Regions from separate parts of the Homo sapiens genome. Here region 2 is linked to region 1. Evidence: fine-mapped QTL for protein levels in blood plasma. A gene starts in region 1. The other region holds a variant in brackets. All regions are shown on one strand. Distances are from middle to middle. Region 1 holds the start of SPOCK3 (SPARC (osteonectin), cwcv and kazal like domains proteoglycan 3). Region 2 overlaps SPOCK3 (SPARC (osteonectin), cwcv and kazal like domains proteoglycan 3).

Region 1 (16,750 bases):
ATATTCACAAGCTTTTAAGAACTAAACCCAGTGCCTGTAATCACCAAAAAAGCAAAAGAAAGAGAGAAAAACACTCATGATAATGCACTCAATTAACTGTGAAGAATTCCCAAGAAATGCCTATGTTCTCAACTACAGTGAAATATAGGTAATTATTACCACAGTTACAAATGTTGTTTCATAGTGAGAAACACTGAAAATGTACATTTTCATAAGAATTGGATATCCATTATTGAGAAAGCATTCTTAAACAGAGAGAACAGTAGTTCACTTTATTAAATATATCCAAATTACAAATAAATCTTTAATTTTATTTTTGATACATATTGTTGAAAAGTATAATAGCACAACTTTGTTGCCAGAAAGGAGGATCCCTCAATGCTAAGAGTATGCCTGTAACTCAAGAAATATAATCAAGGCACATCATAAACCTAAACAAAGTACTGAGAGAGCATTCCTTAAAGATTCTCATTGTTTGAATTTTAATGGCCTGTAGAGCCATAGAATACTTTATTTGGAGTAGACATAGAAACAAATTGTTGTATTTACTTTCTAACAACAGTAGAAGTTGATAGACCCTCGAGAATCTTTACCCCTCTGTAGCCCACTAAGTTCCAGGAAATATCCCACACCATCATCCATTATCTCTTAAATAATCTGTGCACTTAAGAACCTCACCTTAGATGAAAAAGGCAAATAAAAAGAAAAAACAAATTAAGAATGTTCTGCTTACTATTCAACACCCACAAATCAGATATTTTTTAAAAGTCAACTTATAATTTGAGTGCCTCTGAGACATGTCAGCCTGTATTTTACATTTTCTCAATATTCTACATGTTCTTTAGCTTACATTAAGGTTAAATCTGTAAAGTTAAACTGTAGAACTTTATTATTACGTTAAATATACCCAAAGGATATTAAACATCACTTAAGGAATAAATGTAAACTGAAGTTGATTATGGTTTCTATAACACTAGTGGTCACCATTCCTTAAAACAAAAAGTTCAGAATGAGCCCCAGGTATTTTTATTGAAAAACAAATTTAATTTAATCTAGAACTATTTGAATTTCCATTAAAGGGTACAATCCTGTTTTTATTATATGAGTTACTTAAAAATTAGCATGGCCATCATTCCTCTTTTTTCTAAGTTTTTATTATATTGATTCCAAAATACAATATTTGAGGGCTTCTCATATTTTATCTTTTTTTGTCATTCCTAATTAATTTATGTATTTCAGTGAAATCAATAATAGATAATTTTGATAATGTTATTATACCATGCATTACTAAGTAATTCATTGGTTCCAAATTCCATACTCATTTATTACATGATAAAGGGTATGGTTTAATTAAACTATAAAATATAAATATTTGAAATATGCAATACATAAGCCACTCGAGCTAATAATTCAGTTTCCTCATAACGATGCTGATTTCCAATTCTCCTAATATATTCACAAGAATGGGATGAATGAATCCTTTACTCCTGCTCTGGGAGAAAGTAATGGTACCCCACAATTTTCCCACTGAGGAATCTTGTGTACTTAATTTTATCACTAGTCAACAGAGCCCCCCACCAAAAAAAAAAAAAAAAAAAACCAGCATGTAACCAGTATATCTACTGAATATATACCACTGTTGAGGGAGTTCTTATTTTATTTTATTTCAAAATCACATAATTATAACCTAAGTAAAGCATGCTGGTTCTATCTACTGTACTTATGTTTAAATGTGTTGACTTTTCTGTATCTTTAGATTAAGTGAAACTTGTATGCTTTCCTAAGACATAGATATTAAAATCCTTATCAGAATTTTTATACTAATAACCAAATAAATTAATAATTTTCAAAACAGTGAAAGCTCTTTATGTCTATAACATTAAGCATCGTACACTCCAAGCGTCCTTCAAAAGGACAACAAAGGTAACAAACTTTATTCAACAGACATTGCTAGCATAGAGCAGTCAAAAATACTTGAGGTTTCTCCTGTGTTAACACCTACTCATTGCAAGCTTGTTTCTCCTGTGTTAATACCTATTCACTGTAAGCTTGTCTTTGCTTTCATTGCTTCTTTAGCATTTATATTGAGGAAATCAAGAAAATGAGCCTCAACGGCAGTAGTTTTTATGCTCACCTACTCTCTCGTAACTCTATCCATGCTCTTTGTTCCTAAAGCTTTATTGTAAATCAATTATATTTACATACGTATATTACAAATATATAAAGAGTAACATTTATTTTTAAAATTATTCAATTAAAATATAATGCTAAATTGTATTTTTAAATATTATTTAAGATACTTTTAAAATGTATTTCAAAAGAAAGAACAGTTCAAACTTTCATTAAGGAGTCACTTGTTAAACAGTGCTGATTATGTAAAACAGTCACTTCGGAAGAAAAAATAATCATAAGGATTAATCCAAGCAATAATTATGCTGATGCTTTCCAAGGCTTTTGTATAAATAAAATTAATTATATTTTATGGGAAAAAAGCACAAAAGTACTTCAGTTAAATTGTTTCTCAAATAAGAGGTTCAGAATTCCATGTTTCTTTGCCCTCATATAAAGTGAGTACATAAATCATTATTTGAGATATGAATGCTCATGCAGAACATTTAAAGGTAGATTCATGCAGTATAGTATTATTTCAAGTAATGCCTTATCGCCATGTGCTTCCAGCTGAAAACCAACTGAAAAATAACATCCTGAGAGCTACAGAAAAGATTATTAAGCTAATGATTCCCCAAAAGGGAAAGAATATACATAAATAGCAGTGGGGTGGATGGTCTAGATAAGGATTATATATTATGCATTCTGAATTATTATTTGAGAAACCACACTGTCAGCATACCTTTCATCATGTTAATAATAAGCAACAGGTGGTTCAAGGGTAAAAAATGATGGCATTTATCCGCTCCATTCCCTCCAGAAGTCATCTTTGCAAAAACATAACTGTCTTACTAAAATGGTAATACTAAAACCTGATGAAAGTTTTTCAAATAAATCAATATTTATTTTTAGGTGTTGCATATACTTCAAAACAGATATTTGCATAAAATGTATCAGTAAATCCTTTTTAAAATTTATGTACAATTTTGATGGACTTTTTCCTTGAGATCCTAGAATAACTGAGAATGATATAGCAATAAAATCTCCATCTCTATAGAAATTGACTCCATAAATTCTAGCATATTTAGCTCTATAGTAGGCAACTCAGCTTGTCTCAATAGTTTAAGTCAAACACATTCACAAACTGTCCAAGTCCCTCAATAATTTAATAAAGTAATTTGAATAAAATAAGAGAATACTAAGTTATTCAAAATTTAAAATACATTTTAGAGAAGAAAGCTTTTATCTCTGCTCTCATTGAAGATAGTAATACTCTTACAATTCTCCCAGCGAGGAATCTTGTGTAGTTGATTTTATTAAAAAAAAAAAAAACCCAAAACAAATAGAAAACAGCATGCAACCAGTATTACCTACTAAATATATCCCATTGTTGGGAGGTCTTTCAAAAATTCATTTCTAGAAGATTTTAAAGCAGCCATTAAATAATGAAATGTCATAATGTCAAACACTGTTCAAATACTGATGAAGTGTTCAATTTTCGTTTTTGTTTTTGATTTTGCCAAATGAGGGCATGATAAACAAATTTTCTTTAGGTTTAGGAATATCTCACTCGCTATCCTTTTTGCTTGTACTCAATATTGGTGTAAACTTAAAACAAATATGCAACGGGTATGCTTTTATAAGGGCATTTATTTAGCAATAAAATGATGCTTAAGCTTTGTTCATGAAGTATGTAGGCAAGGTTCTCCATTAAATATTCTCAATCAAATGGCTAAACCTAATTTTAAAGTAAAAATTTGTGTTTCTTCAGGAATCCCTCTGCTAGATTTGGCTTGTCAGCTACTTCATGGAGAGGCTGAGAGAATGGGTTAGAGGAGGCAGGATGAAAGCTAGCCTAGGCTCCCTTTTATTTTCCTAAATGGTGACTGAGTCGGAGCTGATGAAAGAAGTTAACTCATCTCCACGTAGTGCACTGCAGATGGACTCCACGAGAAATTCTCTCAAATGTCACGGTAAGGATTGGCAATGTGTCTAGGAACCACTCTCGCTCCAGTTCAGGCCTTCCGCGTTTTAAAGGGTGGGCTAGGGGCGGTATTCAGCCAACAGGGCGGCCTCCTCACTGGGACAACCAAATTCAAGGCTTCCAGTTGTATCGTGCTCTGTACGTGAGCAGCTCTTACTGGGCTCCATTCAGATCAGGTGAGGAAAATAAAAATGACTGGCAAGCCATGGCCACTAGCTTCAAGTGTGGAAACCTGGCTCCCTCTTAATAACCCTTTTGAAAACTCCCCAGGGGAGTCTATGGTTTAACTCTTTTATCGCTGTCACCTGCAATCCTCCCGCCCTCGCAACCTCTTCCCGCAGAGTTCAAGGCAGTGATTCATTTTGGAATAAAATATAATCAAATGCATTGCAAAGATGTTCTAGATTAAAGTCATGTCGAAGCACAAATCTGATCGACAATTTTATGTAAGCGGGAGCGTTCAACGAGTCCTTACTGGTGCCGCCAAACATCCTCCCACCCTTGGAGAGCGGGCATTTATAAATCTTACATCTTCCTACCTCCTCCCTCAAATTCCTTAATGGACCATTAGTGACAGGATCGATCCTAGTTACTTTAGTAGCGATACATCGCAAAGGCACATCTGCTGTGTTTACCAGTGCCAGAAACACCATTCAAAAGTTGAGAGGTTAGAGCCAGCACTTTGTAACCTTTGTGGGCCGGGAGGGGGCACAGGGGAGAGCAGGGTGGGGGAGGAAGAGTGTGAACCTGGTGAGACCTGAACTCCTGTGCATCCAAGAAACAAGCCCTTGAACCAGCTGGGAGGGGGCAGCGGAACTGTGAACTTCTCCAGCAGCCCTGCGCCGCCGCGTTTCCCTAAACCCCTCTCCTCAGAAAACGGAGCCCACTCCCCACCCACATCCGGCGGCCGCGGCCCCCGCCTCGGAGCAGCGCGCGCGTGTGCCCGGGGATGTGGGTGCGCGGAACTTACGTCTCGGAATTTGTTCCACTGTCCGACTTCCTTGTCATACTGAGAGATTGTGGTGAGCCATTGTTTATCATCCAGAAAATTACCGCCGTCCGACCGCCCCCCGGCTGCAGCCACCGCCGCGGCAGCTGCGAGAGACTGACTGCACCAAGCGGCTGCACACACACACAGTACGGCTGACACCTTGAGCATCTGGGAGAGGAGACACAACGGGGGGTGGGGGGGCATGTCAGTGTCAAATAAGGGGTACGAAGCCAGGAGCGACCCTGGAAAACATGCATTAGCAACGACGAGGGTAGAGGGAGGAGGAGACAAGCAGAGGCAAGCGTGTCCCCTCCCCGCAGGCTTTACCCCCAAAAGCCGGGCACTCACACACACGCAGACCCAGAGGAGGAGAGGTGGGTATAAGGAAGCAAGCCCCAGCCGCAGCAGCCCGAGCGGGCACAAAACCGCTTCCTGGCACATCACCTTGTTGTGAGCCAGCACTGTGCTCGCAGCTCCTGCTGGAAATGCAGCCCTGCTCTGCCAACTCGCTGCTTTCTGGAGCTGCTGCACGCGCCGCCGTCTCGAGCCGTCCACTCAGCTCCCTGCGCCCGGCGCGCTCCCCCCATCTCCACCCTCCCTTCGCGCGCGGATCTCCAGCTTACTCCCCTCCGTTCCCCCTCCCTCCCCGACCTCCGTTTTTTTCCTCTTCCACCTCCTCCTATCCCACCTTCCTCTCGCTGGATCCCAGCTACAGTTGGCTCCGGATAGGACGCTTGGCTGGAGCCAGAGGACGAGGTAGCTCCTAGCCTAGGAATCCTTATCTGCTTTGTAACCTCTCCCCTCCAGAAGAGGTTCTCATGTTCGCGAGACAGCCTGCTCATTCTCTGCTCCTGGATTTAACACAAAGTGTACTATCTCTCGCAGTTGCCTCTGCTCCACAATTTCCAGGGTTGTCAGGCAGACGTGAGAAACAAGATCTGAGGAAAACTTTATGCATTAATAAATAAGAATACCTGGACTTCCTACCCTGTAAAGCTCCTGAACTCAGCTCCTCCCTAAAGAAAGGCCATCTATCCACAAGGTCTTGGGAGATCTGTTTAATTTCAGAAAATTTAAAGTTTGCTGTGAGCTTCTGGATTACTACCGACAGCAAACTTTCATGTTAAAGGTTGCAGTTTCTTTTTTTCTTTTCCTTTGTGTGTGTGTGTGTGTGTGTGTGTGTGTGTGTGTGTTTTGTTTTGAGAGACAGAAGCATAACGAGGTAGGGCGTTTGAGAACACCTATATCTCCTACATACTGTAGCTGCATTTTTCCCTTTATAAAAACTCCCTGGCAGCTTTATTTTAGAACGTAGAACCTGAATCGGAAACTTTAAAAGCCTACTGTCTCCCTCCTGCAAAATAAGACAGTTTTGAAGCCCGAACACCAATTTTGTATTCCAAACTTCCATTTATGACAAAATATTTGGCTTTCCATGTCGTTTCTACATATTCTAAATAAACTGGAAGGAAATCAGTAATTAGCCCCTTGTAGAGAAAATCTGATACAGAGAATCTCTCATATTTAGAGAATTTAGGTGAAGTGAATATTACACATAAATCAAGAAATGTCTGCAAGCCAATAGACTGCAATAACATTATGAATCTCTATTTGAATTATTAGAGATTTCAGCCAAAACTACATCTCCCAAAGCTACGACCTTTGAACATTTCTTGTAGCCTCCAAAACTTCAGAAGCTATTCGAATAGCAGCAGTACACATTTTCCATATCAATCTCGTCTAACATTTTGCAATCTATATTAACAAAACGACCAAACTCAATGTTTAATGTTAATTTCCTTTTTTAATGTAATATTTCAAAATAAATGTATAATATGTATGGTAGGAAATATAAGTGTAATATTTATATAGGAAAGAAATTTCTATTACTATTTTTAACTCAGAAAAAGATGTTTTTCTCAATTCCCCCCATTTCTACAGTGATGAATGCAATTAGTGGAGAAAAACACGGAACATACTACTGCAATTCATGGGAGCCCTGATTGACACGAACAAATGTCAGAAAACTTTAAGAATATAGATGTGTGCTAATTCTTCAAAGATATTTATTTTTGCCTGTTCACAGAGGGTTATTACCATGTAGTTTACATATTTAAATTCTTGTTTAGTAAATTTATTAAGACAATAGTAGGTGGTCCATTCTCCACTATCACCTTTTCCTGACCCCTGGTCCTTTGACCTCCCACACTCTCATCCTTAGCTCTCTTCCTCAAAATTTGAAGAAATACTTTATTATTAATAAGAATATCTCATCATGTTTTAAAACCTCATTATTTCTAAATTTAAGTCTAATAGGGAAAGCACAGAAATTGTTTCTTACAAGAAACTGATACTTGGCAGAAGTCAGTAATTCTAAAAGTAAAAATGACCTTCTAACCTTTGTAACTTACCTTTTAAAAAGATAGTTGTTATTAGCTACAAAATACTTGATGAGGAATAATGCTCTAACACTCATCCCCTTCAGCATCTGCTATACATTTTAGCTCAATAACTGGCACCATCTAAGGCCAACATGGTCACCTTTAGATTTATGGAAGCACATATATTTATGTTTATACAGCATTTCCCCCCCAAATACGTCTATTTTGTGGCTGACTCTCCAATGTTCAGAGCATGTTTTCACATCTAGCTTTCACTGGCAGCTTCCCATACTGCAGCTCCACAGGGACGTCTCCAAGTTGTGAAATTTGTTGAAAACAAACAATGACAGTTGAATTCATCTTGGGAGAAATGCCTTTGATAGGGTTTTAAACTACAGATCTGAAGATAGAGTAGGATTTACTAGCAAATTGCAAGTTTAAAATTCTAAAGTCAAAAGAGGCAGAGTGAGCCTGTCTACAGTGTATTTGTGTTGGCCTGGTGTGGTCCAGTCACCTGACTGCTCCTACAGCTCCTTAAGCTTCTCTTTCCAAGCCATTGCCATTGTCTAGGCTAAGTGGGCATGTTGGTAGTGAGAGTCAAAGTCTAGTAGGTGTGATGTTGTGATGTTATTAATCACAGGGAAAGGTTTCTATCAGTTTCTCTATATATCAATATTTTGGTCCTCAAACAGCCTGCTTTCAAGGTTTAAATAATCCTAGGAGAATTCACACTTCAGTTAACACCTTGGTTATCAGTTATCACCTCAGTGGGGATTCATTGAAAGCTTGCTGAGAGCAAAACACAGCAGAGAATAATAAGGGAAGAGTATTAGGTGGGCAGTAAGATATTGGAAGAGAGTAGTCAGGAGCCTTGTATGTCAAGGTAGGTGAGTAGACAAGAAATACTTCACTGACTGCTTCCCAGATAGATGGAGAGCCAGTCTAAAAAACTGGAGAAGCCAAAAACGCAGAAAGTGGGGTGCAGCATATGAGGTGGGTAAAGTGAGACGCTGGTGCCAGGGCTGGGACTTGATTTTATTTTTCAGATCATGCTTTACAAAATTGGAACTCAGAGCAAGACACAGGGCTTCAGATTCCCAGCCCCTTTGTTGTCATTCTGCCACCTGATGCAGAAACATAGTTTAGATACATTATGAAAAGCCAATGCTGAGGCCACTGCTAGATTGAACTTTGCTTTCATATTTGTGTATTTGTCCCTTTAGTTGTTCTTTCTCTCTAAACGTTCAGTAAATCAGTCCACAAATATCTATCATGAAAGATGTAAGGAACATTTTTGATAGGTATTATTTTAATTAAATGTATTTCTTCTGAAGGTTTCCTTACCCTCATTTTCAGACATGACACAGCTCTAGAAATAAAAATGCTAAGCATATATAATGACAGCTGGTCCATTTCTAACCGCCTTTGAGGTTGGATCCATGACCTTCATATAACTCCATTTATTTAAATGCGTGCACAACGTGCACACACACACACACGGTGTGGTCTTTCATAGGTTATTTTTTTCCCCAACAACTATAAAAGCATGCTACTCCATTATCTGTAACCAACATGAGGATATGCAGGAAAGGTCCAATTTATTGCACATCTTCCATGTGCCACACACAGAGCCAGGCAATTTACATGCATGATACCTTTTAGCCTTCACTGCCTAAGATCCTATAGCTACTAAGTGCAAAGGAAAGTTCTGGAGAATGATCAAGCTACTTTGTTTCTAGATATTTTTTCTCTATGTAGAAATATCTCTGAATCATCTTCTGTTTATGCTCTTTAATTCTTCTGCCCCCATATCTTTCCTTCTCCACCTGTTGCATATTTATTTATCTATCTCTATTTCAGTAAGAGCTAGGACTCATCTATAATTAAAGGCAGGAAAAGAGAGAATGGCTACTTCAGGGAGCTTGCTAAGCTAGGCAGAAGCAGCTCCACTTGTATAATGAGCACCTTAGTCCCTGACTCAAATGATGACCCTGTCCACTGGAATCTTTCATCTCAGCAGCATCAAGCCAGTAGCCCAGCAGGCAATCCGACTGGTTGGCTGAGAAGAGAATTAACCAAGACTGCCTCTCTCTCCTTATTGCAAAAGTGTTTGCCAATCAAGCAAGTGTTGTTTGTCTTCCCTGTAGGAATACATGCTTCCCATTACCTTCCCAGCTGGTGGAAGGTAAGGAGACATGTGCATTAAGGGATTTCCAAGTGTCTGACTTCACCCAAAGCTGTAGTTTAATGATATATGAGTTAACCTAAAAACAAAATTTGGCCATTTCTGAAATATTTCATTATAAGGCTAGGGAAACAATACCTGATATATAAAAGTCAACCATCTAGAATGGTGCCTTATACCAAATCCATCTTTGAGTTTAAATTAAGCATATAAAAGAGGAAAAAAAATGAAGGAAAACCCTGGGTATTAAAAACTCAGGAGTAAATTAAAGACGTCATAAAATGATGTCAAGAAGGAACACTCTATGTCTTCATTTTGGAATTGTGTTTACTGAAGTCTTGTAAGTCTTAAAAATCGTGTGTTCTTAATTTAATAGAAAGTAGCACCATTACTAGTATGTGCATTGAGGATATCAAAAACAAACAAAACCAGAATGGAATTTCTAGAATAGGATGTTAACAGACTTTTGTTGTTGTTCGTTTGTTTCTTTGTTTTTAGAGATGAACCCACTGAAGCAAACTTGGAAGATATTAGGTACCTAATTTGATAAACAGGACCTCTTGTGATTTAACTTAATCTAAAACATTCAGTAGATAAACAGACTTTAACAGCTGTAGTAGATATTGGAAACTCATTAGTCAGTTCAATTACTATAATTCTTAAAAAGGTATTTTTCAACATTTAAACCATAGGGTGAAACTGACTGAATTAACTGATTACTAAGGAGATGATAGGAAAATGGCCAATAAGGCAATTAAAGTTTGTGTTTTCTTTAAATTGAGATATATGTTTTGACTTTGTAAAATAAAGACTTTCTGAAAAGTTCAATGAGCATTAATTATAAATATTTAAATTTTCCTGAGGGCTATGAGACACTGACACAAAAAAGGATAAAATAAAATGTTTAAGAATATTTTAAAAATAATTTCACTCTATGCCCATGCACAGAAAGACACACATTCTTATATTAAGACTATTAAATTTAAAAATTTGCATGTGAAAAAGGTTTCTAAAAACACCTCGGTTCTTGAGATTTATACCAATGTGTTTTTAAAATTTTGTTAAACCTGCATATTTATTAATGATCTTAATATAAAAATATATGGGGAGCCAGTTTATTCTTTGACTCAGAATTCTACTTGGCTGAGTAAGGTATATTGTTCTAAAATGGCTATAGAGTTTCTATAGTCAAGATCTACAAAGAACCTTCTATGTTTATCTTTGTAAGTTGTTGTTTGTTTATTTTTAGCTGACCAGTGCAAAACGGGCATTATATATCATTCGCTGTTAAATTACCATGGGTTAGCTATTTTCAGAGGATAAAAACTATCCCAAGTGCTATTGCAAATTCATGCCACTTATTTCTGTCCTCTTGGGTAAATGGAGAGTTCCCTTAATGTGAGGCAGTCATACTAAGAAGGAGTATAAGGTTAAGATTACTGTCCATACATACCATGCCAAGCATCCCGTTTTCTACAAGATAAATGAAAGTAAGGAAAGGAATAGGATGTTAACAGGCTTTAACAGGCATTAGTTTAATTTTAGTTTAAAAATTAAACTAAAATGTGAAACAATTTTTAAATATGTTTATTGATTGTTCTCTAAATGTTATACAATAAGCTTCAAACTAGGGATAAAAAATGTGGCTAAGTTGAAACATGATCTCTCACACTCTTGTGAGCAAAAACACATAATTTAATAATTTAATTAGAGTACAATGAGTGAAGATAGATAATATATGGAGCAGGTTTCTTCCTGAATTAATGAGGGCACTGAAATCTGAATGTATTGTCCTATAGAAATAAAAAGTTGACAGGTAGGCTTGACCTCAGACAAACAGCTCAAACAAAGCTGGTGAGCTTCTCCATCATGTGCCAGTTCAATCAGTGGACTTTATAACATGAAACTTCAACCTTCCAAATTCAGGTGCCTTAAACAATGGCATAGCACTTACAAATCTCACATTATGGAAAAGGGAGAGATTCTTTTCCTAAAATTCATTCACAAGAAAAGAAGAGTTCCTCCACCTTGGAAGCTTTAACAGTTCTGACCTTGTATCATATTGGTTTTCATCTGGTTACATGTCCAACCCTAAAATAATCCCTGGTGGCAAAGATGATGAGAAGTGGACAGTGATAACCCAACACTCAAGCAGTGATAGGAAACAGTCTCTACCAAATCTTTGATTTGTAAGTCTGAGAGGGACTAGTTCTTCAAAGAACAGAAGATTAGAGCACTGTTTCACCAATGGCAGGATCAAAGATGGCAAATGTAACCGATTTCTACCAGAGACTTGCAGGGGATACTGTGGGAGCAAAGAAAGGGGTCATTTAAGAGACAAGATGTGAACCTTGAAAAATAAGCCTTAATAGTCAGAAAAAGAGTGGTAAAAATAACATGTCTTGTGGAGGGAAGAAGGTAGATAAAATCAGAGAGATGTGAAATGACATGATGTTCACAATAATGTTTTTCCTTATCTAAAATGTTAATATATAGACACAAATAGAGTGTATAACACTAAGTGAAAAGTTGAAGCGAAAAAATATCTCTCTTAAAATAATGTTTTTGAAGTGTTTTTCAATCTAATATGCCTCACTTAGCTGCCTGGAAAGCTTTCTAGTGCTCATTGATGCTCAGAGAATTCCCCTGTGAATCAAGCAAATTCTTGTCTTACTTTTTAGAACATAAATACACATGGGATAGCACAGATCAATAATGCAAACTCCTCTTTTGTTTTTTTTAATAAGTAAAATATTTTTGCTCTTACAATTTTTTAAACAGGCAACAATAATTTAAAAGTTTACTCTTCTAATCAAGCTCTGGGTTGCAATCAACAATGACACAGCTCAATTTAGCTCGGGTTGTACTGTGAATTGAGGTATTTTTTCTTGACTTTTTAAAGGAGTTTTTAATAACAAATTTAATTTTTTACTTGGTATAGGAACTATTCAGATTATATATTTCATCTTGGCTTGGTAGTGGGTGGATTTAGAGGAACTGATTCATTTCTCCCAAGTCTTTGAACTTACGAGTGTAAAGTTATTTGTACCATTCTCTTCACATGTTTCTTGTGGCTGCATGATCTGTAGTAATAGCGCCCGTTTTATTACCAATATTGGTGATTTGTTTCTTCATTCCACTTTTGTTGGTCTTGCTAGAGTTTTATGATTTTTTTTAATTTTTTGATAAATTAACTTTTTGTTTTATTGATTTTCTCTGTTAGTACATTGGTGCAAAAGTGACTGCAGTTTTTCCCATTACCTTTAATGACATTTAATGACAAAAACCTCAATTTCTTTTGCATCAACCTAACATATTCCTGGTTTCAATTTTATTAATTAAAAAAATCTTTATTATTTTCTTCCTTCTGCTTGTCTGGGTTATTTTGCTCCCTTTTTCTTAATGTCTTAAGGTAGGAAATTAGGTTATTAATTTTGGAATTTTCTTTTTTCCTAATTATAAGCATTTTGTGGAAGAAATTTCCCTCTCTGCACTGCTTTAGTTTCACCTCACATATTTTTATGTATTTTGTGTTCATTTTTATTCGGTTCAATGTATTTTTGGTTTTCTTTCAGAATTCTTCTTTGACATAGGTTATTTAGAAATGTGTTGTTTAATTTCCAAATGTTTGGAGATTTTTATATTTTTTATTATTAATTTCTAGTTTTTTCCAAATGGTCAGAGAACACATTCTGTATGATTCAATTCTTTTAAATTGGTTGAGATTTATTTTATGGCCAAAGATCTTAGTTATTTTAGACAAGAAAATATACATACTTAACTTCTCATATTGAGGTTTTACCTCTTTGAACAAAACTTAAAAGACCTTACCTTCATTTGTTACCTGGAATATTTTCTCTACATACATGAGGCAACACATTTAAATGGCATTATAATTTTTGCTTCAACCATCAAATATGATTTAACTTATAAGAACAGTATTATTTTATTTACCCTACTTTTTACCCATTTTAATGTTCTTATTTCCTTTAGGAAGTTCTAAGACTATTTTTGGTTATCATTTTCTTTTTCTTTAGAAAACTTCCTTTAGCCATACTTCAAAGGTAGGTTTGCTAGTGATTCTTGTTTTCAGTTTTCTTTCATCTGAGACTGTCTCTATTTCTTCTTCATTCCTGAATGATAGTTTCACCAGATAGATAATTCATGGTTGACAGTACTTTTATTTTAGCACTTGGAAAATGATGCAACCTTTTCTTTTATGCCCCATGGTTTCTGTTTCATATGTGAAATCCACTGTTATGTGAATTGTTATTCTCTATGTAACACAATCTCTCTCTCCAGACAATTTCAAGATGTTTTGCTTTATTCTTAGTTTTCAGAAGCTTAGAATGTGTGGGGGGTATATTTATTTGGTGTTAATTCATCTCTTGAATTAGTAGGTCTGTGTCTCACCATATTTGGGGAGTATTTGCCCATTATTTTTTTCCAAGTACTTTGCCAGCATTTTTTTCTGAGTCCTCTTCTTTGACTCCAATAAATAAATGTTAGTTCTTTTGTTATTGGTTCACAGCTCACTGAGATTCCGTACTTTTTTAATAAATTCAATTGATGTGTTTACTGATTTTCAAGTTCACAGATTCTATGCCCGGTCAACTTTACCCTACCACTTAGTGAGGTTTTTATTTCAGTTATTATATTTTCCAGTTCTATAATTTCCATATTTCCACCTGGTTCTTTTTTTTTTTTTTTTTTTGGCGGAGTCTCGCTCTGTCGCCCAGGCTGGAGTGCAGTGGCGTGATCTTGGCTCACTGCAAGCTCCGCCTCCCGGCTTCACGCCATTCTCCTGCCTCAGTCTCCCAAGTAGCTGGGACTACAGGCGCCCGCCACCAGGCCCGGCTAATTTTTTTGTATTTTTTAGTAGAGATGGGGTTTCGCTGTGTTAGCCAAGATGGTCTCGATCTCCTGACCTCGTGATCCACCCGCCTCAGCCTCCCAAAGTGCTGGAATTACAGGCGTGAGCCACCGCGCCTGGCTGTTCTTTTTATATTTTTCTATTTGCTTGCTAATATTTCTTATTTTTTTCATTTTTAAAGAGAATTTGTAACTGCTTGTTGAAGCAGCATTTTAATGCTTCAATAATCTTTGTCAGCTAACTCAAACAACTGATTTCACCTTAGTACTAATGTGTGTCAATTGCCTTTCTCAATTTGGATATTCTGTTATGACTGGATTCTATTTCATCTTTTTTTTTTAAGTATGTACCCCTTATTGAATTATATAACCAGAGTTAGGTGGGTAAGTTCAGCTTTCCAACTGGGTCCTGCCAACCCTACTGCTGGCAAAAGTGGAACAATATATTGCCTTTGGAAGATGCTTGAGATGGACATTCAGCTACTGCCAACATCTTCCCAGCAAAAGTGGGATACCTCCTTGCCTTTGAGTTGGGGAGCAAGGCAGGGAACTGAGCTCCCTACTTAGCCACAGTGGCATCTGGGAGGTGGGAATTAGAAGAGTGACCCACACCTCTTTGTTGCTTAGCATGAGGGGAAAACCTCAACTACTCTGGAGCCACCTGACATTAAAGGATGGGATGGAGGCAGAAATGCCAACTAGCTTTTACTCCCAATACCTCAGTCACCCTTGTTAATAACTGGTGAGTATGGAAGTTTGACTCCTCAGTGGACTCCAGTAACACTAATAACTGGGAAAAAATGGAGTGCTGATTTTCTGGGACTCACACTGCCTTATTCAATCTCTCAATGACTAGTAAGGGTGGAGGCTCAGCTCTGCCTCCCTGGTTCACGCCATTCTCCTGCTTCAGCCTCCCGAGTAGCTGAGACTACAGGCGCCCACCACCAAGCCCGGCTAATTTTTTATATTTTTTACTAGAGACGGGGTTTCACTGTATTAGCCAGGATGGTCTCGATCTCCTGACCTCGTGATCTGCCTGCCTCGGCCTCCCAAAGTGCTGGGATTACAGGTGCCCCTGTATAAAATTGCAGTTTATTCACTGACATTTGGCTGGAGTAGAGTGGTTATTGCCAAAAACAGGTTTCACTGTAAGGCTACCCTTTTCCAAGTCCTTTGCTAAAGAAAACCAGATTTTTTTCTGAGGATTTTTGTCTGTTCCCCTTGCCACTTCCAGGTTGGAGCCTTCTGCGTTACCTTGTCTGGGATATACGGATAAGAATAAGGAGCCCAGTGAACTCACCTCCCTGTTGTTTCTCAACTCTTGAGGTCCCTAAGCAGTTCATTTCCTTCTTTCCAGCCTTTCAGAGTCTTCCTATACTGATTTTTTGAATTGTGTTCAGGGTTTTTTTTTCTGCTGTAAGAAGGAGATTTTGGGTAAAATGGGATACTCCGTCGTTTTCACCAAAACCAGGAATCTCTTGACTGTTTTTTGTTTGTTTGTTTTGATGTGTTTTGTAGAGTCAGGGTCTTACTCTGTTTCCCAGGCTGGAGTGCAGTGGTGCAACCATAGCCTCCATCTCTTCTCTTCACCTCACCAGCGGCTCACACACCCCCATCATCCCAGCACAAGTACAGCCTCGAACGCCTGGGCTCAAGTGATCCTCCTACCTCAACATCCCAAGTAGCTGGGACTACAGGTGCCCATCACCACGCATGGCTAAGTTTTTTGTTGTTGTTGTTGTTGCTGTTGTTGTTGTTTTCCATAGAGATGGTGGTCTCACTCTGTTTTGAGCTCTTGACCTCAAGCAATCCTTCCAACTTGCCCACTCATAGTACCAGGATTGCGGACATTAGCCACTGCACCTGGACATTCTTGACTGCTTTTAAATAACTAATTCATTGGCTCTACCCTGATATCTGCTTTCACCATCCCTCTGAAACAGAACTCTAAAGTTTAGCTGGTAATAAAAGACGATAGTTCTCAGTCTTCTTTGTAGCTGAGGGAGCAACATAGTTCTAGCCAATTAAGTTTAAATAGAATTCATTAATTCTCTCTTGAAATGTCTTTACAAGGTAAGGGTAGTACCAGTTTTCTTCTTCCCACTTCTGGGATAAAGGCCTAGATGGCTAGAACTCTACCAACATCTTGTCATCTCTATAATGCAAGTCAATTATTGAAGATGTCAGAAAAACATGATAGGAACATGAGTCCCTGATGATATTGGGTA
Region 2 (16,750 bases), 20 kb before region 1:
TTGTTTATACATGTAGATCTGCTAAAAATATGAGAAAATATTTCTGTAAATTTAGCATGATTTTATCTGTGAAAAGGAATAGTGATTATTTTGTTAATATTTAGCAAGGAAACTTTCCTATAAAAGTTACAACTAATGAGAATCTTAAAACAATATCTTGATAAGGAAAACATTAAAATCCTGTTAACAGCTTAGAGTTATATTTGTTTGCAATCACTCTTTTCAAAAATTACATATGCTAGTTAACTATTTATTTGTATTTGCACATAGATCACTAATAGTGAAATATCTTTTTTGTCATTTTAATCTACAAATGAAGTGGATGAATATATTATAATTCAATTATTGTCTTGTTTGCTGTACAACAATCACAACTACTAGAGTCACCACTAAAGACAGAAGGGCATCTGCAATTTAGTTTCAATAAGCCAAGAGAAAGGTAAAATGGCTTTTGTTAACATTGTGCTTCTCGGACTGGGGTTCCTGTATTGGGTGCCATGATATGGAATGTTCCATGTTACTGGAAATGTAGTGGTTTCTCCTGAACTCCCAATATATCAGTTTTCTAAGTAATATTTGAAAATATTATTTTTAAATTGAAGCAAATATGTTTTTTGATTCTTAAACTAGGTTTTGATGGATGAGTAGAATTTTTCACTAGTACTAGAATGGAACAAAATGCAAAAGGCCTATAAATTTTAAATAAAAATGATATTTCAAAGATATTTCACAATGCTAACACTGAAGAATTTTTCAATCTGATATGGTATGGAAATGAATCATGTTTTCTGTGTTTGGAGGCTAGAAGAAAATCTTTCATGTCTTTGTACGTCCTATGTTCAAAAAATCCCCACTTTCCTTAAAGAGCTCCTGTTGCCCTATCTAGAATACACATTTTCCTCAGTTCTCATTTTCTCACTTAAATAGCCAGATTATAAAATGTGGATGGATGCACCAGCCATTACATAGAAGATCAATAATTGTGTACTGCATTACCTGAGAATGCAGGAGCATGTGCTTAGAACACTAGCAAATTGGGGACACTCAGACAACTGGGGACACTCAGACAGTTACAATATACAAAAAAAATTTTTAAACCTTAGTGAATTTTGTATTTATAGTTTTTCTAAAATAATGCAAAGTAGACATCATGGGAAAAAAAGCAGAACTTAATGGGAATTCCTTATACTAATTTCTCACTCTGCTTTCTATTTTGAATCAAATATAGGGCAGTGAAGGGGGACATCACAAGTTGTTCAGGTAGCAACAACTGCAAAAGTCTTCCTCTGACTTTGTGGATATCCATCAAAATCTGTCAAGGAGGCAATTGTAGGAGCACTCCTTTGTTTATGAAAATCATCAGCTTAGCAGGTTTTGGAAATAACTTCAGATCCTAGTCCTAACAATTTTCAGTCTCCTCTGTCTTGACTCTCTATCATTCACAATTTGTTTACGCACATTTAATTTCTTATACCTATGGAACATGCCACGTACTTTTATACCTCTATAACTTTGCATGTGTAGATCCCTGTCAGGTATGCTTTCTTCCACCTGTTCAAAGAACAAACTCTGCTCATTCATCAAAACACAGATTGAGTGTCATGGACTCTGTGAGGCCTTCATTGAATCACCTCCCACTACAGATGTAATTTGCATGTACTTATCTGACTTCCATTGTCACAGTGCATTGAATCATTATTCAACATGTCAATCTTTTCAACTATCACAAGGATTCTTCAGGGAGGAGATGGTACGTCTTGGGTAGTGGGCTAAAAGTGGCACACATGATTATTTAAAAACAAAGAGGTCTTTTCCTCTTTACTGACATGCTTTCAATCTCAATGATTATTTAATATAAATTCTATAAATATTAAAAGATAAATGTGTGTATTTAGCAAAGAAGGACTTTAACTTTATATAGATGAAGAATGTTTGTTTTTGAAATGATATATTTTAGCAATTTATTTTCTAAAGTGTTTTCTCATACATTTGATTGCCTGATATTCATAATAATCCTCTCATTTCCTGAAAAAACAAATATCATTCTCATTTTTAAAGGCTGAGTCATACAAATATATGACTAGCTCGAGAGCAAAATAGGTAAGTGCAGAAGGCTCTCTCTCTCTGTGTATCTCTCTCTATATATATGCAAACACATTTTTAATTTAATATCTGATCACATATTTCAGTTATTGCATAGACACTTCTGATTTACTGGAAAATGATAGATCCTGCATATTTTGGAAAACATGCTTAATCTAAATGTGGTTTAATTGCTAAACAATGAACGATTTTTTAAAGTTCAACTTAAGTTATAAATTATGTAATTGATAATGACAGAAAAAATGATTAACATATGTTATGTACTTAATATACATAGTTGCATCAGCATGACCTGGATGTGAGACATAGGGTTAAAGGAGATCATTTTGGAGCTTTAAGATTTGACTGCCCCTTGGATTTCGGACTTGCGTGCGGCCTGTAGCCCCTTTGTTTTGGCCAATTTCTCCCATTTGGAATGCGTGTATTTACCCAATCCCTGTACCCCTGTTGTATCTAGGAAGTAACTAACTTGCATTTGATTTTACAGGCTCATAGGAGGAAGGGAACTTGCTTGTCTTAGATGAGACTTTGGACGGTAGAGTTTTGAGTTAATGCTGATATGAGTTAACACTCTGGGGGACTGCAGGGAAGGCACGATTGGTTTTGAAACGTAAGGACAAGAGATTTGGAAGGGGCCAGGGGCGGAATGACATGGTTTGGCTGTGTCCCCACCTAAATCTCATCTTGAATTCCCATGTGATGTGGGAGGGACCCTCTATGAGGTAATTGAATCATGGGGGCAGGTCTTTCCTATGCTGTTCTCGTGATAGTGTATAAGTTTCATGAGATCTGATGGTTTTAAAAAGGGAAGTTTCCATGCACAAACTCTCTTCTCTTGTCTGCCACCATGTGAGACATGCCTTTCACCTTCTGCCATGATTGTGAGGTCTCTCAGCCACATGGAACTCTAAGTTCATTAAACCTCTTTCTTTTGTTAATTGCCCAGTCTCGGGTATGTATTTATCAGCAGCATGAAAAAGGACTAATACATGTACATATTGGAACATAGTAAATATGGTACTTTTCATTTTAACAACAGACAAAAGCATACTTTTAATCAATTGTTTTAGTGAAGCAATTTTCCTTTGCTGAGCTATGCAGATATAAAACAGAAACTTCAAGACCTATTTGCATTACTATTTACCAAATTGTTCAAATTGCTATACAATGGACAGTGTAAACATACTGACTCCAGCATCATTAGGCAAATCTCTGACCACTATTATCTGTTTGTCTGCTTATTCTGGCTTTCTGGAAAATAATGACAATAATACCTACAATACAGGGTTGTTATTAATATAAACAAACACATAATAAATGACAAAACCAGTTCTAATATATGCCTTTACTCCAAGGCACTACACTCTGTGTTGTGTTCATTTTAGATTTTTCAGTACAGTTTTGTTTTGTTTATTTGACTTTTTAAAAAAGATTTACTTTTTTTTTTTTGAAACAGAGTTTCTTTCACTCTTGTTGCCCAGGCTGGAGTACAATGGTGTGATCTCGGCTCACAGCAACCTCCGCCTTCCAGTTGCAAGAGAATTTCCTGTCTCAGTCTCCTGAGTACCTGGGATTACAGGCGCCCAGCACCATGCCTGGCTACTTTTTGTATTTTTTGTAGAGCCGGGGTTTCATCATGTTGGCCAGGACTGGTCTTGAACTCCTGACCTCATGATCCACCCGCCTCGGCCTCCCAAAGTGCTGGGATTACAGGCGGGAGCCACGGCGCCCAGCCAAAGATTTATTCTTATACCTCTGAATATAGACAGAAATCTGGACTCAAGAAAATTTTGATGATTTTAACCTAAACCATATTTTTCTATTCCTATTGCTTTGATAATAGCACAAGTTGTATCTGTCTCAGTAAACTTTAATGTAATTCAGAGAACCAACAGCCAAGGGACACATTTCTCCACCCACTACATCATAATAGAGAACAGAAATCACATTCAATTCAAAATACATTTAGAGTCATTTCAAAATTGATAAAGTACATTTTTCCAATTTGCTTACATAATGTCACTAGAAAATTATACTCTAGGGTATTAGAAACAGTGTGGTCAAGGTATTTTAGAAAATTAGAGTGATTTTTGAATATTTTTCAAGCTACATGACAAAATACAAAACAAATGAAACATAGAGCATTTGTCCACGTGCCTTTAAGAATTACCTTAGAACATTTGGTTTGGCCACTACCCCGTCTGTAGTGAAGATGCTGGAGCACAATCTACATCTAAGCATTTTCCAGACGTTTATTTACAGAAATGTTAATACTGCCACTGGCAGCATGTGATTGAATCGTTTAAGTTTAGCATAGATGGCCTGGTGTCAGCCTATGCTAATTGATGGCAAAGTAAATGGCAAAGTTGCTTTTCTAGGCCTCAGTTCCTTGCTAGGGAAAATCAACTTAATGTTTTATTTTTGTCCATGGAATAAAACTGTTTACATGTGCAATTTCTTCCTGTGTTTGTGCAAAAACAGATGCAATTCTGTGTTACGTGGAGCCAGAATGCCACAGAGATAGGTCACAGTTTATTCAAAATTGTAACTATTTTTAAATCTTTTCTGCTATTTGATGATATTAAATATTCTTGCTTTTTTCATGTCACAAATTGCATTAATGATAACATTATAAAAAAGGTTATGTGATATTATAAAATTAACTCTCCCCATAAGTGAGAAAACTTTAATATTTAACAAGAAAATTTTCTTTTATTTTGGTGGTCTTTCATTTTGTCTTTTTGCCAATATCATCTGCTACTTTATGGATAAAATGGAGCTAGAGTTTGAAACATAAACACTATTACCAGAAATATTCATTTAAATATAATGGAGGAAATAGAAATCTCTTTTTCCTCCATGATCAATTTCAACACCAATTATAAGTCAAAACATCAAGGCTTCAATATAAATACATTCAACTACCTTGCATTACCAGTGTTTGATGATGAAATCCTAAAAGATGACATATGGTGAATCTTGAATCTTTAGAAATTTTACAAAAGAGCACAAAATATATAACATATCAGATCACAATACCAATAAGCAGTCACCATAAAAAATTGTAAACGTCAAGGTGGCATTTCATCACACAGATGACTTAATCTATTGTACTGTCACAAGACTGCTTGATTTAAATATTTGTCTTTTTTATTATGATGAAAATTGAAACACTATAATCCTGTACTATAAAATGCTATGGTAATATTCAAGCAATTGGAGTACATGATTTGATACCAAATTACGTTCTCAAAGGCCTCATTTCTGCTTTTGATTTTATGAGTGTAGATGCAAAGATGCAACCTTTATTATATTGGTTGAGGATGTCTTCCAAGATGTAAATTTAGAAAAGGTTTTAAGAATATAGCAAAGCATACCATCATGAAACCACCCAATAGGTAGCAGTTGTAATGGTTTCAGAATTGTATTTGTTGTTACTACTGTTTTTATGTAGTTTAAAGAATAAAATACCTATAAAAATATTTGTCGTTATCTTTTTTAAGTAACTATATAGCATAGATTATAAACCCCACTTGTCTCTCATTAGTATTTTAGATTCTCCAGAGTTGAATGCATAACACTATAACATTATCAGCAAATAGAAAAAAACAGTTTAGCGAGAAATTATGATTTCAATTTTGTTTGGGGTACTAAAAACACTGTCATTTTTAAAATTCATGACTACAACTTCACATTACTTAATATACATTAGATTATTTGTCTTCTCAATAACAATCATTTGGTTTTTCCCAAGTGATTGTTCTTACCATTTTTATTATAAAATCAGGTTTAAAAGTTATCTTAAAATAGATGCTTTTCCAGGAAAAATAAAGTCTATAAATTTCACTTTTCTGTAATTTTACACACAGAGAATGAATCTTAGGGTGAATCTTAGAATGAATCATTTGAGTCTTAATAGCATTTCACCAGTGTTTCTTCTTACCTAAAATGTTTCTCATTTTTAGAAAGTTTGAGTTCAGACAAGATGCAGTGAGAACCCTTTCTCTAGGTTTGAAAGCTTACCTTGGGGCACCTAATTTATGTGATGACTTACAGCAGAAACCCAGCAGCCTACTGTTGACATTTTCATAGATCAGGAGTTGGCTGCTTGGAAGAGCAAAAACATGTTGCATATGCCATGGCAAACCCTCGATAATATACATATATATATTTACTGTATATATATTTACTATATATATATTTACTGTAGTTCAAACATGATAGTAAAAAGTTACAGTGTTCTTGTAAAGTAAATGAGAGTTTAAATGCAAAAATCAAAATTTAGGAAAGACTGTCTAGAAATTAAAAATGAATATGTGCTCCGTAACTACCAGGATCAATAGAAAATTTCTACAGAAGAAATAAGATAAAATGTTGTATTATCAACTAATAATATTAACCTGGGTTGGGGTATTTATACTAACTACTAACTCCTATACTTGATCTGCAAAGAATAGGTTTCAGTTTGCTTCACTTACCCATATTTGAATGTTTTATGACTATTCCTTCTGCACTCCTGGAGTGCAAGGTACAGAACTCTTAAGAAACACGGCTCTTTCCACTGCTGACACCGCCTTTCAAAAAGTGCTTCAGGGACTCATGAAAAAGACAGGTTGCATGTGACTATAGTAATCATGGAAGAGGTCATGGAAAAAGGAAAACATAAAAATAAGTCATGAAAAATGAGAATGAGATACGTAACAGGACAAAGGCCGCCTTTTCTAGATGAAAAACTCACTGTGAGGAAGACACAAAAAAAGAAAGAGCAGTGAATGTGGCGTGAAGATAGGTGATACCTGATTTGTGTGAAGAATGCATGAAAGAGGAAACAAGGATCCGAAAGCAAATATGGTTTGGAGGCAGGTAGTGAAGAGATTTTGGATTTGGGAATAGGAAATGTGGATGTTGTTTGGTGTTGATGTTTGAATAGAAAGCTTCTGGTAAGACCTGTCTATCATCAGGAACATCCTGGCTGCCTGTGAAAGAGCTCACACTGCAGTATTACCTTGATGAATTTCCCACCATCCATGATTTGGCCTTCAGCCCTAAAGCCTCAGAAACCTTGTTCTGTCAGCAGAAAACATGTTTCAGGAAGACTGGTACATTTGCTCCCTGAGGCTGAGCTGCATTAAAATCAGAAATTTGCTGGGTGAGCATGGAATTGAAGAAAGGAAAATTTTTGACCTGTACATGTTGTAGAGCATTAGAGTAATGTTAGAAATGACCACTGTCTTTCCTTAGTACTGGCAAATGTTGCCTGGGTAAATGATTTTTCTGTGTCTCACTTCAGACTTCTTCTGATGAACAGCCACCCTCCAAGTATATGTTACAATATTTGAAGAGTCTCCAGTAGACTTAGGAATCACATGATCTCCCTCTAACGTGACTATACATATATATGAACTGATCCATTATGTGGAGTTTGCGGTTTATCCCACCGAAAAAAATACCGTTTACAGATTTTTGGAAGGCAACTTACAGTTGCAGCTATATACAATCCTGTTCTGTAATACATTAAAAGATGAATAGAAGATTTTAAACAGAAGAACAAGATCAGAACTATGATTTGGGAAAAAAAATAATTGATCAAAAAAGTATTATTGGTGCTTGCAGGCAGGGAGAAGCCTGAAAACATGAAGGTTATCTACAAGACTAGCCTAAGGGATGGATAATGAGGATCTGGCCCAAAGAAGGGTGAACAGTCTTGGATTTGAAAAATACTGCAGAGAAGACCCTGACAGGATATGCAAGCGATTTGATTGGGAACGCTGAGGAGGAAGACAAGAGTCCAAGATATCATCAATAATAAACTTCCTGTAATTGCAAGGTCATTTAAATTTTTTTTGCACAGCTTTAAGAGTTGTGTTCTGTAGAAATGATGGCATTGCACAGCTCACTTTTACCTACGTTTTAAATAATCACAGCTGAGAACTGTGAATTCTCTGAATATTATACACAATTTTTTGTATATCTAAGTATTTTCTGAAAAAGTAACCATAGATATCCTCAAATTCTGAGTTTCTGCGCCCCAAAATAATTAAGGATTTTTGGCCCAGAAGATTAGCTTTGGAAAAGCATCAGTTTAATACATGTAGAAACACTTTATTATGTTGCAAAAGTAAACACTCATAACTGAATGACAATAGTACAGAGAAATCCTAAAATAAATATAAATAAGATCAGAGACTAGAGATAAACTACATTGCCAAACTAAACACATGTACAAATTGCCTTATCCAATGGCTTTGTTAAAGAACAAAAAACAATTTGTTAAACACGGTGAAAAAAAATTTATGTGGCTACTTTATTTGCCTTTTATTAATGAATGTAAACTTTAAAAAGAATTAAACAAAAGTTTGTTAAATAATAATTTGAATATCCTTAACAAGTTGGACAATTTTATTTACAAGGTTATTTCAGTTAAAAATTGTAATACAGTTGACCCTCTGTATCCATGAATTTCACGTCCATGCATTCAACCAACCACAGGCTGAAAATACCGAGGAAAAAAAGAATGGATGGTTGCCTCTCTACTGAACATGTACAGATGTTTTTTTTTGTTGTTTCTTGGTATTTTTTCCTAAAAAATACAGTAAAGCAACTATTTACATAGCATTTATATTGTATAAGGTATTATAAGTACTCTAGAGGTAATTTAAAGTGTATTGGAGAATGAGTGTAGGTTACATGCAAATACTACATTGTGTTATATAAGGGACTTGAGGATCCATGGATTTTGGTATCTCTCCTGGTGGGGGTGTCCTGGAACCAATTCCCCATGGATACTGAGAGAAGACTGTATATGAAAATATTTCAAAAACCTAAAAAATATGCTACTGCAAATTCGTATAACATACAAAATTCTATTAATATGTCCTTTACACAGCTTATTTTGATTATTAGGTGAGTTAGCCAATATTTATTTAAGAAAGAAACTTGGTGGTGGATAATATAACATGTGCCCAACTTAAAACTCAATCTGAAATACATATTTTCACATACTAAATGGCTATACATGATATAAATATTGCAACATTGCTATAAAAATTACTATGGATTTTTTATTAGGCCATCTAGGAGGAAGTTATTTAAATATACAGTTTCATTAAAGTAAAAAAAAAAAGTTAAACCCACAAACCAAAGGGTTTTAGCAAACAACAAACACAAATCAGAAACATCACAGTATAGTCCAAAAATAAAAAGGTGAAAATTAAGTTATGAAAGTCCAATAACTAAGAACAAACTTTTTTTAATTACAATTCCTAAATCACGCAACTACCTACCACTTACAAGAACTACTGCTACAAGAACAAGCTTTCTTATGTTTCTAACATGGCACATTTCTGAATAGCACTTAAAAGCTATTCAGGGGCACACAGGCTGAACAATTAGAAGTCAGGGAACTGCCCTTAGCTAAAAAATAATCGTGTGTTAATAGCAAAGTAAGTGTCTGAGATCCCCAGTAAACATTAACTTGGCCTCAGATGATGTTTTGACGTTTTACTTGACTTCTGATCCTAGTTCAAGAGTAGCAACTAGCACCAGGGGTGCTTTTGTCACCTTTGAGGCTGATGCCAAAGATCCTCTAGAACCTACACATTAGAGCAAACAGCATATTCAATAAAGAGGCACTCCTCCCAAGAATAAACATAAGACTTCTTGTAGCAAAGCCAGGTAGCTTTCAGTGACTCAAAGCAAACAAAGCAGTTCTGAAATTAGATGTCCAGATCTCATTCACTGACCTAAAAACTGCCTATGCTTCTCAAACTTATTCAAAACTTGGTTCATGGTATACATTTAAAAAGTTTTTAATATATTTTAGTCCCTAAAAACAAATGTGGGATATTTTTTCCTATCTTGACCACTAATTTGTTATCTGAATTAAACATGTCATTCCCCATA[G/A]ACCACCTTCCCATTTTAAAAAATTTTTATCTAGAAAAATATGTAAACGAAAGACAAAAAAACTTTAAATTCTGAAATAAACAATTTTAAATGACAATAACATTAGCAAAGAAAGTTAGCATATTTAATCAAAAAGAAATTCCAAGGATAATGTACTAAGTGTGTGGTCTATGTACGAATGCTCCTTTGCCTAGAGTTACTTTCAAATTTCACAGCTTCCAAACTAGCACTTCCCTAGTTATCAGTGTGGAGTGTGCCTTTAATTCACAGTTTCAGTAAGTACAATAGTTCTTAAAACTATAAAGTGTATAACATCTCAACTCCAAAAAAATATATTTTATGTCAAGGAAAAATGTCTCAGGTAATACTAGGTTAATGCTGTTGATACAATGTTCTAGAAAAGTTTTGCCTCAGGGATTGTTCATTTTAGATGAATCTGACTGCCTCAGGGACATCCGAGGAGAATATCAGATGTTGCCAAGGGCACCTCAGGCAGCCTTACTGGAAGACTAGGAGGTTGTCTATAATTTCACACTATACTGTATGCCATGAAAGGCTATAAATATTGTCTTGATATTCTAAAACCGATTCTCAGCAGATGCTAATACCATGTGCCAAGGCAATTAGCAAGCTCGTATTTCAGAGTATCTTGCCTATTGTACCCTATGTAAATATTTTGAAAGTCACAAAGTAGTTTGGTAATAGAAAAGCAAAAGTGAGCTGTGATTAACGGACTATCAAATTACTATTTTTAGGAGGTATATCTAATGTTTTACCAGTATTCAGGCGCACAATGTCTTGCAATGTTTTACATATCAGAAGACAATTAATTAGATTGAGTTTTGGCATTTTTGGTTCCTTTCTCATTCCTGTTAAATGAGCTTTTACTTATGCTAAGAATAAAGAACTCACAAAATTATCTAGAACACTCAACATAAAGATTTCAAGTTGACTGAAAGATTTATTTTAATTTTCGTTACAGAATATTCCATATAACCATTTATTTCACATACTTAGTATAAAATTTGGCATTAAGTTCTCTGTAATTTAAAAATAAATTACAGAAATCATTGAATTTTAATTTACTCAAATTTATATTTTCTTCAGTGTAGCAGCAAATTAATTTTGCTTTTTTGCTAAAATCTCCAAAACAGAACCCATGTTCAGTGTTATTGTTCATAATATCTTAAATGAAATTCTAGACGTAGAGGACTTCAAAATATATGTAGACAACAAAATATTCTTAAAAACTTACATATATTCCAACCTATCTTATATATGATAGGATTTCATTTTTTTAAGTCAATAACATTACATCTCTCTTTGATATTCAACATGGAAAACAGAAAACTATGTTTTCTACTAGGACAGAGATTGCTTGGTTTTCTCAGAACCCAGTCAACAATGGTTACATTTATGTTGTATTACAAATGATATGTATGTTGATTACGTATGATAGTAAGTTGTGAATCCTAGAATTTAATTAAAGAAAATAATTCCTTTTTCCATTTTACATAATTTGATAATAGGAAGAAGTCAAATTCTCTTCAGCCAAGAAAAGGAGGGGGTGGTGGCACAACTGTAGAAATTAAAAATTAGGCACAGTAACACTTAAAAAACAGCTTCTGAAGATGTTAAACTTCTAATCCAAACAACAGATACTGTAAGAACTTTTTTTTTTTTTTTTTTGAGACAGGATCTCACTGTGCCATCCAGGCTGCAGTGCAGTGGTGTGATCACGGCTCACTGCAGCCTCTACCTCCTGGATCAAGCAATCCTCCCACCTCAGCCTCTTGAATAGCTGGGACAATAGGCATGTGCCACCACACACAGCTAATTTTTTTTTTTTTTTCATTTTTGCTGAGATGAGGTCTGGCTTTTTTGCTCAGGCTGGTCTCAAACTCCTGGCCACAAGTCATCCTCCCACCTTGGCCTCTGGAAGTTCTGGAATTAACAGGCGTGAGCCATCCCACCCAGCCTAGTATTTCTTTTAACAGCTATTTCTGACCACATAAGATATTCAGACCTGCACTTTGATATCAAAAAAGGTCAGTAATAAAAATGCCAGTAATATGCTGTTGCCAAATATAGTACCTCTGTAGGGATAAACATTACTATTTGAACAGTATGTGATTTGAAACTACTGACATTTGTAAGACTAATGAAGGACAGGCAACTAGAAGTTTCCTACTGCAGCTTCAAGATATACTGATCAAATTATAGCAAGATCATGGTGATTCTGTATAAAGGACAATAAATTCTAATACAAATTGCAAACCTTAATCAATTCCTTGGTCTAGCAGGTAAGAAAATAGACAGTCAATGTGACCGTTTAAAAGGACCAACTTTATGTCAAAAGATAGAAAACCAAGCCAGGCACAATGTGACACACCTGTAACGCCAACACTCTGGGAGGCTGAGGCGGGAGGATGGCTTGAGCCTAAGAGTTTGAGACCAGCCTAGGCAACAAAGTGAAACCCCAGTCTCTACAAAAAATTAAAAAAAAAAAAATTAGCCACACATGGTGGTACATGCCTGTAGTCCCAGCTACTTGAGAAGCGAAAGTGGGAGGATCACTTGAGCCCAGGAGTTTCCCGCTGCAGTGAGCTATGATGACACCACTGCACTGAAGCCTGGGCAACAGAGCAAATTGCTGTCTCTTAAAAAATAAATAATATAATATAATACAACAAAAAAAGCAATTTGAGCTGTCTGTAGTAACTGTTTTAAAGTGGTCAACTGTTAATTTTAAAAAAACATGGTCTTTAGAGTTAGAAAGTCGTTTCAAACTTCACTGATTTTGAGCAGGTTGATTAAGCTTGCTGATACTGAGTCACTTTATTTGTGAAAGAAGATTAATAATCTCTACTTTTATGATTGTTAAAAGATTTTACCAAAAAGGAAAACATGTAACCCAATTAAAAATGGGTAAAGGACTTGAGCAGACATTTCTTCAGAAATGCTGTACAAGTGGCTAACAATTATATGAAAATATGCTCAACATTTCTAATCATTAGGGCAATGCAAATCAAAACCACAATATCAACTCACATCCATTCAGATGGCTACTAACAACAACAACAACAAAATGTAAATTAACAAGTGTTAGCAAGGGTGCAAAAAAATTGGAACCCTTATCCATTGTGAGTAGGACTGTAAAACAGCGTAACCACCACGGAAAACAGTATGGCAGTTCCTAAAAAAATTAAAAACAAAATTATCAGATGACCCAGCAATTCCACTTCTGAGTATATATCCAAATAACTGAAAGCAGGATCTTGAAGAAATATTTGCATACCTATGTTCATAGCAGCATTATTTACAATAGCAAAGAGGTAGAAGTAACCCAAGGTTTTTTATTGACAGATAAGTGGACAAATGTAAAATATACATACAATGGAATATTATTCAGTCTTTTAAGAAAAAGGAAACCCTGTCACATGCCACAACATGGATGAAACTTGAGGATGTTATGCTAACAAAAGCCAGTCACAAATAGACAAATACTGTTGTTCCACCTATATATCTAAAGTAGTCAAATTCGTAGAAACAAAAAGTAGAATGGTTGTTACCAGGGGCTGCAGGAAGGGCAAAATGGGATGTGGTTAAATGAGTATAAAGTTTCAGTTCTGCAATGAAAAAGTTCTGGAGACTGGTTGCAAAACAATGTGAATATACTTGACACTACTGAATTATACACTTAAAAATGGCTAATATAGTAAATTTTATGTCGTGCTTTTTACAATTAAAAATTATATAGATTTATATATAAACATATATATTACATATGAATATATGAATATATAATATATAACATGTATGTTATAGATTCATATATGAATATATAATATATATACATGTTATAGATTCATATATGAATATATAATATATACACATATGTTATATATTTATATATAAACATAGATATATATTATATATTCATATATAAATATATAAACATAGATATATATTTATATATGAATATATAAACATATAAACATAGATATATATTGATATATGAATATATAAATATATAAACATAGATATATATTGATATATGAATATATAAATATATAAACATAGATATATATTGATATATGAATATATAAATATATAAACATAGATATATATTGATATGTGAATATATAAATATATAAACATAGATATATATTGATATATGAATATATAAATATATAAACATAGATATGTTTATATATGAATATATAAATATGTAAACATATAATATATATTATACATATTTTATATGAATATATATTATATTTTATATATGAATATATATTTTATATATGAATATATAATATATTATATTTTATATATGAATATATATTTTATATATGAATATATATTTTATATATGAATATATATTTTATATATGAATATATAATATATATTTTATATATGAATATATATTTTATATATGAATATATATTTTATATATGAATATATAATATATATTTTATATATGAATAATGTATATTTTATATGTGAATATATAATATATAATATATTTTATATTCATTTATAAATATATGTATATATTCATTTATAAATATGTATTTATATATTCATTTATAAATATGAATAATCATATATAAGCATATATATTTATATATGTTTATGTATATTATGTTTATATATAAATATATATTTATAGAGGGAGATATTATATTATATATAGAGAGAGATATATATTAAAGTGGGATAATATATTTAAAGTGCCTAGCATATAACACAGACCCAAAACAGCATTAACAGATGAAGAAGCATTACTCTTCTGTGTTTAAGGACAAAGTCTTTAGAGCCAAAATTCTACTACTGGAGAGAGCCCTGACTGATACTAGCTGTGTGATCTTGGCCCTGAGTTTCCTCAGCTGCACAATGGATTAACAGTTGCACATTCCATATGGGGATATTACTAATTAATACATTTTTAAAAACTAGTCAGGCACAGTGAATCATGCCTGTAATCCCAGCACTTGAGGAGGCCAAGGTAGGAAGATCACTTGAGCCTAGGAGTTCGAGACCAGCTTGGGCAATATAGCCAGTCCTTATTCCTAAAAAATTAAATTAAAAGTGAACTTATAATACTCCTTGCATGTGATATGCTGTATTAAAGTGCTTGTTATTATTATATTATTATCAATTTCTAGACAAGGAAGAGTCTGTCGTATTTTTATTATAAAATTTTTAGTACTTACCTCATTTGATATTTTGGGTGAGTGCATTTTTACCATCATCATTCTCTACAGCCATAGTGAGTCAAATTTTGAGTACCCTATTCATATATAAAATACAGACTATTTGTGGATTTAACTTATTTTTAAAAGTAATTTGGTTAGAAAACAGCCATTAATTAAATTAAAAGATTTTAAAATTATTTCCATCAAATATCTAATAAAGTTGTATTTATAAATTCTGACATCATAGTTTTCTAACACATATTTTTTCATTTTTATTATCTTTGTCATCTTGCTTACTATATACATGTTTAGTGCACTATTAAAGACATTGTGTTTAAACTTAATTACCATAGTTAGCTGGAATTTTCAGAGAATAAAATAGGACAAAAAGAGGAATCCATGAAAAAATAGTATGGAAAAGTTAAAATAGAGTTTATTTGTCCTTGCATATTCAAAAATGTAGATAAAGATGTGGGATATTTTACTGATGAAATGCTATAACAATCTGAAAATAGAAACATTAACATATAGTTCATTCTAAATCCACATAAAAAAGCTTAAGAGAATGCTGTGGAAAAAGAAGCAATTTTTGTATATGCCACTCGTTATTTGATTGTTTAAAATAGCCATGTATACCAAATGTAAGTTTTTTCCTAATTAATTTCCTAATCAACAGTAAACCAAGCTACCAAATGTTCAAACTTAACAAAAAAGATATATAATACAGATAAATGCAATAAAAAAGTACTTAAACTTTGTTGTTTTTTTTTAAGACTGAGTCTTGCTCTATTGCCAGGCTGGAGTGCAGGCACATGATCTCAGCTCACTGCAACCTCTGACTCCCTGGTTCAAGCGATTCTCTTGCCTCAGCCTCCCGAGTAGCGAGTAGCTGGGATTACAGGCACGTGCCACCACACTCAGCTAATTTTTGTGTATTTAGGAGAGATGGGATTTCACCATGTTGGCCAGGATGGTCTCGATCTGCTGACCTCAAGATCTGCCCACCTTGGCCTCCCAAAGTGCTGGGATTACAGGCATGAGCCACCACACCCATCCAAAACTTTCTTTTCTATACTGAAATAGCATAATTTAAATAATCAATAACTATTCTAATCAAACAGTTATGAAAACAGAATACTGAATTTAATTATCTCTGTTTTACAACAAGAGTGATAATATGGCTTAAAAGTTTCCAAAATATACAAGCCACATATAAAAACAGGAAGAATCTACCTCACACAGATTAAGATTATTATTATTTATTCAACATGATGCTTTTAAAACCAATAAATGAACTAATGAAATATAATAGTGCTATTTCTGAAGGAGGGAATAAAAATTTTTATTAGGCCATTATTCTTAATTTACAAATAGAAAAATCTGCAATATATATTTGGAGGTGGGAGACAACATTTCTGATTCAGACCATTATTTCCTCGATAAAGGAAACAGCTTGTGAGCAGAAAATCGAAGGCCAGATGACTTCTGGTGGAAGAATATTAGGGAAAGCATCAATCCTTTGGGAGAAATGACATGACTGCAAG

Evidence for each region. PIP is the chance, under the fine-mapping model, that this variant and not a neighbour inherited with it causes the effect. Sun 2018 read protein levels with aptamers (SomaScan).
Region 2: its variant is fine-mapped to the plasma level of the SPOCK3 protein (Sun 2018, PIP 0.95).

What each region holds. Positions count from the first base shown.
Region 1 is chr4:167,228,922-167,245,671 of GRCh38, forward strand. It overlaps SPOCK3 (SPARC (osteonectin), cwcv and kazal like domains proteoglycan 3), which reads right to left and starts at 5,573. Exons shown (of 11, transcript NM_001040159.2): 1 at 5,529-5,573; 2 at 5,064-5,252. The coding sequence starts at 5,252.
Region 2 is chr4:167,208,703-167,225,452 of GRCh38, forward strand. All of the region lies in intron 2 of SPOCK3 (SPARC (osteonectin), cwcv and kazal like domains proteoglycan 3), which reads right to left. Among named protein-coding and RNA genes, the nearest start is that of SPOCK3, 17 kb to the right of the region's middle. The variant G/A (reference allele first, on the strand shown) is at 10,006.